Homo sapiens: one gene and its partners. The protein of the gene in region 1 interacts with the protein of each later gene in a pairwise test. Each region holds a gene or a part of one and is shown on either strand. Other genes may lie near its edges. The genes, in order: ORM1, TMEM37 and BLVRB.

Region 1 (3,746 bases):
GCAGTGGCGCCATCTCAGCTCACTGCAAGCTCTGCCTCCCAGGTTCACGCCATTCTCCCATCTCAGCCTCCCAAGTAGCTGGGACTACAGGCGCCTGCCACCACGCCCAGCTAATTTTGTTTTTGTATTTTTAGTAGAGATGGGGTTTCACCATGTTAGCCAGGATGGTCTCCATCTCTTGACCTCATGATCCGCCCGCCTCAGCCTCCCAAAGTGCTGGGATTACAGGCGTGAGCCACCGCGCCTGGCCGACCTGGCTAATTTTTAAATATTTTTGTGTAAAGATAGGGTCTCACTATGTTGCCCAGGCTAGTCTTGAACTCCAGGACTCAGGTGACTCTCCCATCTTGGGTCCATTAAGCTTTTAACTACAAACTACACTGAAATATGAAAGTTATTCAGAATGAAATGAATAAGAATGCAAAATTATAATCATACCGTAAGAATACTTTCTGAGTAATCCCAGCACTTTGGGAGGCCGAGACGGGTGAGTCACCTGAGGTCGGGAGTTCCAGACCAGCCTGGCCAACATGGAGAAACCCCATCTCTACTGAAAATAACAACAACAAAAAAAATTAGCTGGGCGTTGTGGAGGGCACCAGTAATCCCAGCGACTCAGGAGGCTGAGGCAGGAGAATCGCTTGAACCCAGGAGGCACAGGTTGCAGTGAGCCGAGATTGAGCCATTGCACTCCAGCCTGGGGGACGGGAGTGAAACTCCGTATCAAAAAAAAAAAAAAATGAATACTTTCTGAAAGTATTTATTCATACAAATAAAGACTTGACCCGTGAGGTAGGAACACAAATGGGCCACGGAATCACTCATTCCACAGAATATACCGAGTGCCCTTGAAGTGCTGGGCACTGCTCCAGGATTGGGGGCGTATTGGTGAAAGAGAAGCAAGCTGCCTGCTCAGATGGCAGGGAATGGGGGAAAACAGGGAGACAGTTTCCTGTTTGAGATGTTGGGAGATGCTTCGAGTAGTATATTTACTGGAAATAGACATTCAACTTGGATGTCCCTTTTTGGAAATGTGCCTGCGTCCAGGGCTGGGTTGGGGCCCCAATGAACTTTGGCTCTGACACAGCTGTTGCCACACTCAGTGGAACTGAATCTATGTTTGTCTTCCCCGGCATCCTTCACCCCAACTCTCCCCGCCACAACATACATCCCATGCCAGCCTGGGGACCCTCAAAGGTGGCTTCATCATTAGGTTTGTGGCTGGGTCCCACTGAAGTAAGTCTTGGCACTCAGAGGGATAGGAATTGAATGAAGACATGAGATTCCTCTGCGGGAGGCCTCTCTAGGAAATCTGTGGACTCACACGTTTACTAATGTTGCTGCAGCCCCGCACCCACCTTGGCCTTGGGCAGCCATACTCTAGGGCTTTTGTAACCTCTCCATGTGAGGAACTCAAATTAGACCTGGGTTTGGAGGCGGTGCTCCGAGCTGGCCTTTGGGGGAGGTTTTGTGCGAGGCATTTCCCAAGTGCTGGCAGGATTGTGTCACAGACACAGAGTAAACTTTTGCTGGGCTCCAAGTGACCGCCCATAGTTTATTATAAAGGTGACTGCACCCTGCAGCCACCAGCACTGCCTGGCTCCACGTGCCTCCTGGTCTCAGTATGGCGCTGTCCTGGGTTCTTACAGTCCTGAGCCTCCTACCTCTGCTGGAAGCCCAGATCCCATTGTGTGCCAACCTAGTACCGGTGCCCATCACCAACGCCACCCTGGACCGGGTGAGTGCCTGGGCTAGCCCTGTCCTGAGCACATGGGCAGCTGCCTCCCTTCTCTGGGCTTCCCTTTCCCTGCTGGCTGTGGTCGGACCCCCACTCCCGGCTCTGCCTTTTTCTCTTCTGGGTCCCCAGGGTGAAATTCTCACCAGCCCAGGGGACTCTGGAGGCACCCCCTGCCTCCAAACACAGAAGCCTCACTGCAGAGTCCTTCACGGAGGACGGTTCTGTGCTGGGCCTGGAGGGGCTGCCTGGGGGGCAATGACTGATCCTCAGGGTGAGCTCCTGCATGCGCACTGCCCACCAGGGGCCTCATCTCCCCATCTGCAAAATCAGGGAGAGATCTGCCTGAGTCTCCTCCCAGCTGACAGTCAAAGATTCAGCATCAAGCCCCCATCACCAGCTCCCACCTTCTCCCCAGATCACTGGCAAGTGGTTTTATATCGCATCGGCCTTTCGAAACGAGGAGTACAATAAGTCGGTTCAGGAGATCCAAGCAACCTTCTTTTACTTCACCCCCAACAAGACAGAGGACACGATCTTTCTCAGAGAGTACCAGACCCGGTGAGAGCCCCCATTCCAATGCACCCCCATCTCAGCTTCTGGCCAGAAGACCTGAGCAAGTCCCTCCTTCTTCCTGGCCTTGGCCTTCCCATGGGTGGAACCGGGAGGGCTGGCTTTAATCTCCACCAGACTCTTGCCCCAGGACTGTGATGGGCGATTGGCCACTTCTCAATAATCTTCCTGTTTTCCTTCCGCCTTCTGTTTGGCTTTAGACAGGACCAGTGCATCTATAACACCACCTACCTGAATGTCCAGCGGGAAAATGGGACCATCTCCAGATACGGTGAGGGCCAGCCCTCAGGCAGGAGGGTTCACTGTGGGAACAGGGCAGGCCAGCATAAGGTGGGGGCTGGATGTAGAGCCCTGGAGGCTTTGGGCACAGAGAAATAACCACTAACATTTTTGAGCTCTAACGATGTGCTCAGAAACAACTCTAAGAGGACACTGAGAGAATTAGAGGAGGAAAAAGAAGAACAGAGACCTCAAATAGTTTCCCCAAGGTCACACAGCTTATAATTAGAACTAGAATTGGAACTCCAGGCTGGCTTCAGATCTGCCTCTCTCTCATGCCCTCTTTAAGATCCTTTGCAAACCAATGGTAGAAGCCTGTATGTTGGAGAGGTGGTACCTTCAACTATGTCCCCCATCACCGCAGAGGTGGCACATGGCAGGGAGCTGATGGAGCTGAACTGACACCATTTAGCATCCCGAGCCTCCTCTCTGGGCCTCATTTTCCTCATCTGTAAAACGGAGAAAGGCCCTGACAGCCACGGTCTGTGTGAGGCTCCTGAGATCTCATGTACAGAAAGTGCTTGGCGTGGAGCTGGGCATGCAGCAGGGGCTGGGCACACGGTGGCCCAAAGGAGCCCTGGGCCTTCACTGATGGGCTGTGTGGCCACTGACACACCTAGGCCTCCTCACCTGTAAGACAGACACCATTGTGCCATCCCATGTTCTCACCCAGAGGCTCCTTTTCTCTTCCAGTGGGAGGCCAAGAGCATTTCGCTCACTTGCTGATCCTCAGGGACACCAAGACCTACATGCTTGCTTTTGACGTGAACGATGAGAAGAACTGGGGGCTGTCTGTCTATGGTAGGCATGCTTAGCAGCCCCAAACTCATGCCCCTCTCAGGCCTCACCCCCCATTCACCCACCCCTGGGCTGGCCCCTAGAACCCCAGCCCTCCCTGGCCTCCCGCCGGGCCCCACCATGTCCCCAGTCAGTCTCCTTGCTCCCCCTGCAGCTGACAAGCCAGAGACGACCAAGGAGCAACTGGGAGAGTTCTACGAAGCTCTCGACTGCTTGCGCATTCCCAAGTCAGATGTCGTGTACACCGATTGGAAAAAGGTAAACGCAAGGGATTGGACAGTGCCCACCTTGTCCATGGCCCAACTTGGGCAGCCCCAGAGGCCCAGAGCAGGAGAGCTGCCAGGCAAGGCTGCACAGCTAG
Region 2 (3,746 bases), on another chromosome or scaffold:
TAACAAACCTTCCAGGTGACTCTGGTGCAGAATGGTGGCAAGAACTCAAACCTGGACTAGGCCTGCTGGGTAAGTGGAGTCCCAGCTCTCCAGTGGACTCAATGTGGGTGGCCTGGGCCAAGCCTTCCTGTGCCTGGGCCATTTCTCCGTTTGTCAAGCTCCAGGACTGGGGTAAAGGATTTGACAAGGTCTGTTGGGCAGGGATGGAATCAGATGAATATCTAAGTGGAAGATATACAGACAATTGTAACTACCCCTCTTTCTCACATGGCTCTAAAGGGGAAAACAGATGAGTGCAGTTGCTTTGTCTTTGGGTAAAGTCACCAGGAGCTGCCTGCCTGAGTGAACCAGACAATTTAATGTGTGCCATTTAGTGAGGGGCCTTGTTTTACCACCACATTTGAGGATGGGGGGAGGGAAGCCTTTCTGTTGGAATTTGTGGCCCTTGGACACTCCTCCCACCTCCACCCTTTTTGGCGGTAAAAGCTTTTAGGTGCTGCCTCTTTAAGAACTCAGATCCGGCCGGATGCGGTGGCTCATGCCTGTAATCCTAGCACTTTGGAAGGCCGAGATCGGTGGATCACCTGAGGTCAGGAGTTCGAGACCAGCCTGACCAAAATGGTGAAACCCCCGTCTCTGCTAAAAAATACAAAAATTAGCAGGGCTTGATGGGGCGCGCTTGTAATCCCAGCTACTCGGGAGGCTGAGGCAGGAGAATCGCTTGAACGGGTTTGAACCCAGGAGGCGAAGGTTGCAGTGAGCCGTGATCGCGTCATTGCACTCCAGCCTGGGCCACAAGCGCTAGACAACGTCCAGAAAAAAAAAAAGAGAGACCTCAGTTCCCATCGAGGTGGAGAAAAAATAACCACATTTGTTTGGCATATTTGCATTTTTAATAGTCCCTGAGGAGTTCAGGAGGAAACAGGGTTTTACATCCCCTTTTAGGGACGCAAGTAGGATTGCCCCAAAAAGTTCCACTCCGTTCACACTCAGCGAGGGCCCGGCAAGAGCCCCACCTTTCACATTCATTATTTCCCTTACTAACCGAGGCTCCGAGACGCTAAACAAGCAGCCCAAGGTCACACCGCAGAGTGAGGGCAGCAGAGCCTCTGCGCCTGCCTCCTCCCTTCGGACCCTGCCGCGTTCCCAGAGGCTGGACTCAGCAAGCTGGAACAGGAATCGAACCCTCAGGCCCTCGTCGCCGTCCCAGCCCTCGAGGAATCTGCGCCCCAGGCGAAGCTGTCCTCGGAGGTTCGGGAGCGTCGGAGTGACTTCCCGATCCTTTCCCCTGGGACCCGAGGGATCCCTCCCCCCAAGTGCCGGGTCCTCCCCGCGGCTCCCCAGGGGCTCCTCCGGCCGCCCTCGCTGACTCAGCGTAATCCGAGCCGCGGAGGGCGGCGGGGTTGGCGGAGCCCGCCCGGGGTTAATCGCCGAGCTTTGAACGCCCCCTCCCGCCCCGCCCGCCTCCAGCAGCCGCCCCGCCCCTGCGGAGAAGTCCCGGGCTGGCGCCGGCGGCCACAGCGGAGCAGCTGGAGCGATCGAGGCTGCAGCGCGGCCGCCGGGCGCAGCATGACTGCCGTCGGCGTGCAGGTAGCCGGCGCCTGGCGGGGCGCTGACCCGGGGTGCTGCCCCGCCGTGGGAGGTTGGGGGTGGGAGGACGGAGGGAGGGGCGTACCCACCGCGAGCGCCGGCGTCGGGCTGGGGGTGCGAGCGCCCCCCGTGCCCGCCCCCTGTTGCAAACCTGGGTCCGGAGGAGGCTGGGCGGGGAGCAACCTCGGGGGGCCTGCCTGCCTCACATAGCTGCTCCCGAGGCGCGGACTCCGGCTGCTTCTGCTCGCGGCCTTGCAAGCACCCGAGGCTCCCAAACTTCATTTGGAAAGATTTTTCTTCTCTTTGGTGTCACCAGTGACTTACTGGTCAGTTTACCATAAGGGTCCCCCTTTGTGAGAAATGAGGCGCGTCTGGGGTGGAGGGACAGAATCGACTTGCAAAGTGAGGCTTATGTAACAGAGGATGCGTCTCTTGGGAAGTTAGACCTTTCTGGGGGTGGAGGTTAGGAAGACCGTCTCCCTCCCCAAAGCTGCGTTTGGGGTGCTGGGCTGGGGGTGGACTTGCTGAGTCGCGCGGACACCTCAGGGAAAGGCTCTGGCGAGGGAAGAAGCCCGTGTCTCCGAAGATTTGGCTTCTCCTTAGCGTAGTGCACGATGTTTATGTTGGCTAAGAACCTACACATTCCTACCCGCTCCCTCGGGCCTGCTGCTCCCCAAAGGGAAGTCAGTGGGTGGCGGTACCGCTGCCCAGCGGGCGAACTTCCTTTCCGCGCAACTCGCCCGCTGCAGAGTCTATCCGCTGGACTGTCTCCAGGATTAGAGAGGCCCGTTGACTTCGTGTACAAACGCTCAGCCACAACACTGACCTAGTAGACACCGTTCTGCCCATTGTATAGATGAGGTAACCGAGACTCAGAAGTAAGGTGCCCTCCGTGGCTGGCCAAGGAACAGAATCAAGATTCAAACCCAGGGCTTTCTGGCTCCAAATCCCACTGGCTCCTCCTGCCTTTACCTAACGGGAGAAACCCCACCCACAGGACACCCCCAAAACCGCTTCTATAGCCAGGACCTAGGCACCTGGGCGAAGCCGGGCATGGGGCGCAGGGAATTCCTCCCCTTTGTTCTGGGGGATGTCTGGAATCCCGGCCAGGCAGCATGGTGGGACAGACCAGGTGCGGTCCCTCCCCTCTAGGAGCTTACAGCCCATGTAGGGAGAGAGACTTGGAAACAGGGCATGGGGGAGCGAATGCTAAATTAAGAGGTGCAAAAGTTGCCAGACGGGGAAGAGGAGGAAGCCTGGTAGCAAGGTGGGAGCTCAGCTGGGGAGGCCACAGGCTCCAGGTGAAGGGCGGGTGCTCCGGCCGCTTCGGGATGATAACTCTTCATCCCCACAACCATGACTTGCCAGGGGGCAAACACAGGTAGGAAGCAAGTTCTGGGTCATGCAGGCAGCGGTGGGCCAGGCTGCAGCTGAGAGGAGCAGAGGCAGGCCGGCTCATCAGGAGGCTGTGAACTTCCAGGATGTTGACGATGGTGATGGCCTCACCTGGGTAGGGGCAGAGTGGGTGATGAGGGGGAGCAAATATGGGAGACATGTTGGGGATGTGCGGAATGAGTTGGGAGGAGCTTAATTTGTCTACCTGGGGGTGCTTTGGTTAAGGGGAACACATGAGGCCCTGGGTTATAGGAGGAAGACCATGACATTGGACTCAGTAGCCCAGTAGTGTCAAGTGACCCTATTCTATAGGTCACTAGAAATCATGCAAGGTTACAGATGAAAAAGGAAAATGCTTACATTTTTAGCAGAGCAGTTAAGCTCCAGAGAGATTTAAGTGATTGCCTAAAGGTACCCTGCAGGGGTCCTCTAGGTCAGGGGCAGGACTTGACCTCCCCGCTCCCTTCTTTTCCACTGCACACTTGTCCAGCTGCCCTCCAGTAGCCGTTTCAGGCCCTGCATCACTGAAAGCTGGTGGAGATGCCGGGTGGTTAGGAATGAAGACTCTATATGTGTTATTATTGTTATTAATATTAATAGCTACCATGAGTTGGGAGCGGCCCGTGTACCATGCATCTTTATATACAGGATCTCATTTGATTCCTGGGAGTTTCAGTGGTGGCCAGAGAGTTTAAATGAAGCCCTACTTTGGGGCAGGAGCGGGAGGAAACTAGATGAGGTCAGCTGTCTCCACTTTCTGA
Region 3 (3,746 bases), on another chromosome or scaffold:
CCTGGGCCCGCGGCCGCCAGCGTCGCTGTCTCCGCTGCTCGCCGCGACCGACCGCCCTCCCTGTCGGCGTCCGCTGCCCGGCCCGGCCCGGCCCGGCCCAGCCCGGCTCAGCTCGGCCCCGCCGGCCCGCGGCTCAGCCAGATCCGCATGCGCCGCCGCGCCTCCCTCTCTCGCGCCGCCGCCGCGCTCAGCGCGCCCCCGGGACCCCCTCCCGCCCGCGGTCCCCGCGCCCCGCCGCCCGAGGCCCACGCGCAGTCACACCCGGCCGCGGCGTGGGGTGCACGGCTGCACTCGCGAGGGCACGGCGGCGTCACGCGCTGCACACTCCCACGGGGTCACGCTCGCCACGCTGCCATACTCGCGGGGGCCTCGGCGCACAAACTCACCCCCGCATCCACGCGCTTGCGCGCCGTCACTCCCTCCTGTGGGGTCTCACGGGGTCACACCCTCACGCCGTCACACGCGGCGTCCACACTGGAACGGTGTCACCCACCACCACACAAATCCAATAGGGTAACCACCGCCCACGCGGCGTCACACACAAATGCACCTGTCACACACAGCCGCACACTCCCCGGCAGTCACAAACAGTGTCATAGGCCCACACATCACGCACAGCTTCACAGCCACAGTGTCACACACTCTACACACTCGAACCTTCATAGCAGTCGCCCCGCACATGCTGCACCGCCGCACCTCACACATCATAGTCACAGGGGGTCACAATGAGCAGCTCAACACAGACACCCACAGCCACACACTCGAATGGGGTCCCGGTGTCACACATCCTTACACGAGACATGTGGTGTCACACACTGTCACAGTCTAATTAGTCTCACGCTTCCATGTAGCACACCTCACACGTCCCACACCCTATCGTACAGGCTGACGCAGTGTCACCCACGGTGTCACCACAAGGTCACAAAAGAACAGAATCAATGCCTGCCACACGTGGTGTCACGCACGTGTAGTCACACTGTAACACGGGATCACACTCAGAGGATGACACAAGGTGTCACCCACAGTCCTGCTTGCCCTCCGGGTCACTGAGTCACACAGGGTCATATAAGTGCATAGGTACGCCGTGACACAGTGTCTTACATCCAAGTGCACACACACACTCTGTCCTCCTAACTTTCTCCCCTTGCTGGTTCTGGGAGGCCCTGGGGCTTAGAGTGCGCCCCAGATCCGCTCCAGGCTCCGGGAGAGGGGGCGTGAGCTACGAGAGGCCGTGGGTGAGGCTCGCCTGGCCCCGCCCCTCTCCGGGAGGTGGAGCGCGGAGGCAGGGCGCTGAGTGACAAGTTATCTCGGCTCCGTCCACTCTATTTGTTGCTATGTGGAGGCGTGGCCTTCTGTGGCCCCGCCTTCCAGTCTAAGTGGCGCGCAGAGAGGGCGGTGCTGGACGGTGAGCGAATGCAAGCTGACGCCTGCCCCGCCCATCCGCGTTAGGCCCCGCCCCTTGACCTGAGCCGCGGGCGGAGAGTCTGAGGCGTGGCCCTTCGAGCCAGCTCCGCCCCGTTGTTCCTGGCTTGAGTAGGGCAGAGAGCACCGCCCAGCAGCCAGTGGGTTCCCGCGCGTGCCGAGACTCTGAGGCCTTGCACCCCCACGATCCCGTACGATGGCCGTCAAGAAGATCGCGATCTTCGGCGCCACTGGCCAGACCGGGCTCACCACCCTGGCGCAGGCGGTGCAAGCAGGCATGAGCCGGGGCGGGCGGGGCATGTCACGGGACAGACGGGCAGAACTTTAGGAAGGGGCACCATGGGGTCGGGCCGAGGCTGATTGGGGCCATGAGCGCCCCAGCCAGGTGTATGAGGACTCAGGGGCCAAAGCAAGTGGCCACGGGGGCAGAAATGGGGAAAGATGTGAGATCCAAGTTTATGTGAGTCCAAGCCAGAGAGGAATTGGCCCCGGGAGCCCCGGGAGGACTCCACTGGCACAGTCGTGTGTAAGTCCAGGGCTCTTATGCAATGCGGTTGTCATTATTGTGGTTGTGGTGGTGGTTGTTCGCACTCCCAGAGAGGATTTACTAAGCCAAGCTTGCTCTGTCGTCTCTTCACATGAGAGCTTTCAAAATGGGGTGGGAACTAGTATCACCCTACTTGACAGATGAGAAAACTGAGACCCAGAGAGTGACTTGCCCAATATCACACAGCTGTTAACTGACAGGACTGGGATTTGAACTCAGCTCATGCTCTTAACCACCACAAGTCCCCAGGCTGGAAACTGAAAAAGTTGGGGGGTCAGGTTGCTGCGAGTACCTAATGGGAAGGAGTCACAGAGAGACATGAGTGAAGACTTGGGGACAGCAGTCCTGGGAAAGTCAATGAGGGCTGAAAATTTGGAGTTGCCCCAGGAGAGAGGGCAGAAAAGGGGATAACCATCCCCCAGCACTCCCTGCCCCCACAGCCCAGACTTGACCAACTCCCAGCTGGGCCTGGGACTTCCAGATATGGGGCCCCACCCTTGCAGGCCTTGGGGACGCTGAAGATATTGACTATCTGCGTGCCCCAAAAGGGTGGAGGCCAACAGGACCCCACTCTGCTGTCTCCCTTGGAGGGACTCTGAAAGTTCTTCTCTAGGTCCATAACTCTCCCCTTCCCCAGGGAGACCACGTGAGGATCTTGACTTGTGGAGAATGGGGAGCTGTGGGCCTCTCAGTAAAAACCAGTTTGCTGATAAGCATTTATTCGGGAGTAATGGAGAAGGAAGTAAGAGAGAGAAGTTGAGAGGCGCTGAGTCACCTGGAAATCCACTAATTCCACCGAATTCCACTCGCCCACCCTGCTGGTCATAGCTGGGACTGCACTCAGAGGGTTAAGAACTGGAGCCTAGGGAGCTTCAGAGCTGTGGCTCTGAAAAATCTCTTCCCAGCTCTCAGCTTTGCTGTCCCCCTCAGCAAAGGGAAGGGCTGGCCAGGCACGGTGGATCATGCCTATAATCCCAGCACTTTGGGAGGCCAAGGCGGGAGGATGGCTTGAGGCCAGGAGTTTGAGACTAGCCTGGGCAACGTAGCAAGACCCCATCTCTACAAAAATACAAAAAAAAAATAAATTAGCTGGGCGTGGTGATGCATGCCTGTAGTCCCAGCTACTCAGAAGGCTCAGGTGGGAGGATTGCTTGAGCTCAGGAGTTCAAGGCTACAGTGAGCTGTGTTTGCACCACTGCACTCCAGCCTGGGTGACAGGGTGAGACCCTGTCTCTCAAATTTAAAAAAATACATAAAAAGAAAGAAAAAGAGGCTGGGTGCGGTGGCTCACGCCTGTAATCTCAGCACTTTGGGAGGCTGAGGCAGGTGGATCACGAGGTCAGGAGTTCGAGACCAGCCTGGCCAATATAGTGAAACCCCGTCTCTACTAAAAATACGAAAAATTAGCCGGGCATGGTGGCTGGTGCCTGTAATCGCAGTTACTTGGCAGACTGAGGCAGGAGAATAGCTTGAATCCGGGAGGCAGAGGTTGTGGTGAGCCGAGATTACGCCACTGCATTCCAGCCTGGGCGACAAGAGTGAAACTCTGTCTCAAAAAAAAAAAAATTAGCTGGGCACAGTGGTACGTGCCTGTAATTCCAGGTACTTGGGAGGCTGAGGCACAAGAATCGCTTGAACCTGGGAGGTTGCAGTGAGCTAAGATTGCATCACTGCACCACTGCACTCCAGCCTGGGTGACACAGCAAGATGAAAGGAAAGAAGGAAGGAAGAAAAGGAGGGAGGGATGGAGGGAGGGAGGGAGGGAAGGAAAGAAGGG

The links.
Region 2: the proteins of ORM1 (region 1) and TMEM37 interact in a two-hybrid assay, tested with the Homo sapiens proteins (one large-scale study listed by BioGRID and IntAct).
Region 3: the proteins of ORM1 (region 1) and BLVRB interact in a two-hybrid assay, tested with the Homo sapiens proteins (one large-scale study listed by BioGRID and IntAct).

The regions. Positions count from the first base shown.
Region 1 is NC_000009.12:114,321,510-114,325,255, forward strand, and holds the start of ORM1 (alpha-1-acid glycoprotein 1 precursor), read left to right. Parts: upstream 1-1,588; 5' UTR 1,589-1,624; coding exon 1,625-1,738; intron 1,739-2,153; coding exon 2,154-2,296; intron 2,297-2,508; coding exon 2,509-2,579; intron 2,580-3,280; coding exon 3,281-3,388; intron 3,389-3,539; coding exon 3,540-3,643; intron 3,644-3,746. UniProt on the Homo sapiens protein: Functions as a transport protein in the blood stream. Binds various ligands in the interior of its beta-barrel domain. Also binds synthetic drugs and influences their distribution and availability in the body.
Region 2 is NC_000002.12:119,430,335-119,434,080, forward strand, and holds the start of TMEM37 (voltage-dependent calcium channel gamma-like subunit), read left to right. Parts: upstream 1-1,519; 5' UTR 1,520-1,569; coding exon 1,570-1,590; intron 1,591-1,738; exon of another isoform or gene 1,739-1,916; intron 1,917-3,746. UniProt on the Homo sapiens protein: Thought to stabilize the calcium channel in an inactivated (closed) state. Modulates calcium current when coexpressed with CACNA1G.
Region 3 is NC_000019.10:40,463,561-40,467,306, reverse strand, and holds the start of BLVRB (flavin reductase (NADPH)), read left to right. Parts: upstream 1-1,561; 5' UTR 1,562-1,618; coding exon 1,619-1,697; intron 1,698-3,746. UniProt on the Homo sapiens protein: Enzyme that can both act as a NAD(P)H-dependent reductase and a S-nitroso-CoA-dependent nitrosyltransferase. Promotes fetal heme degradation during development.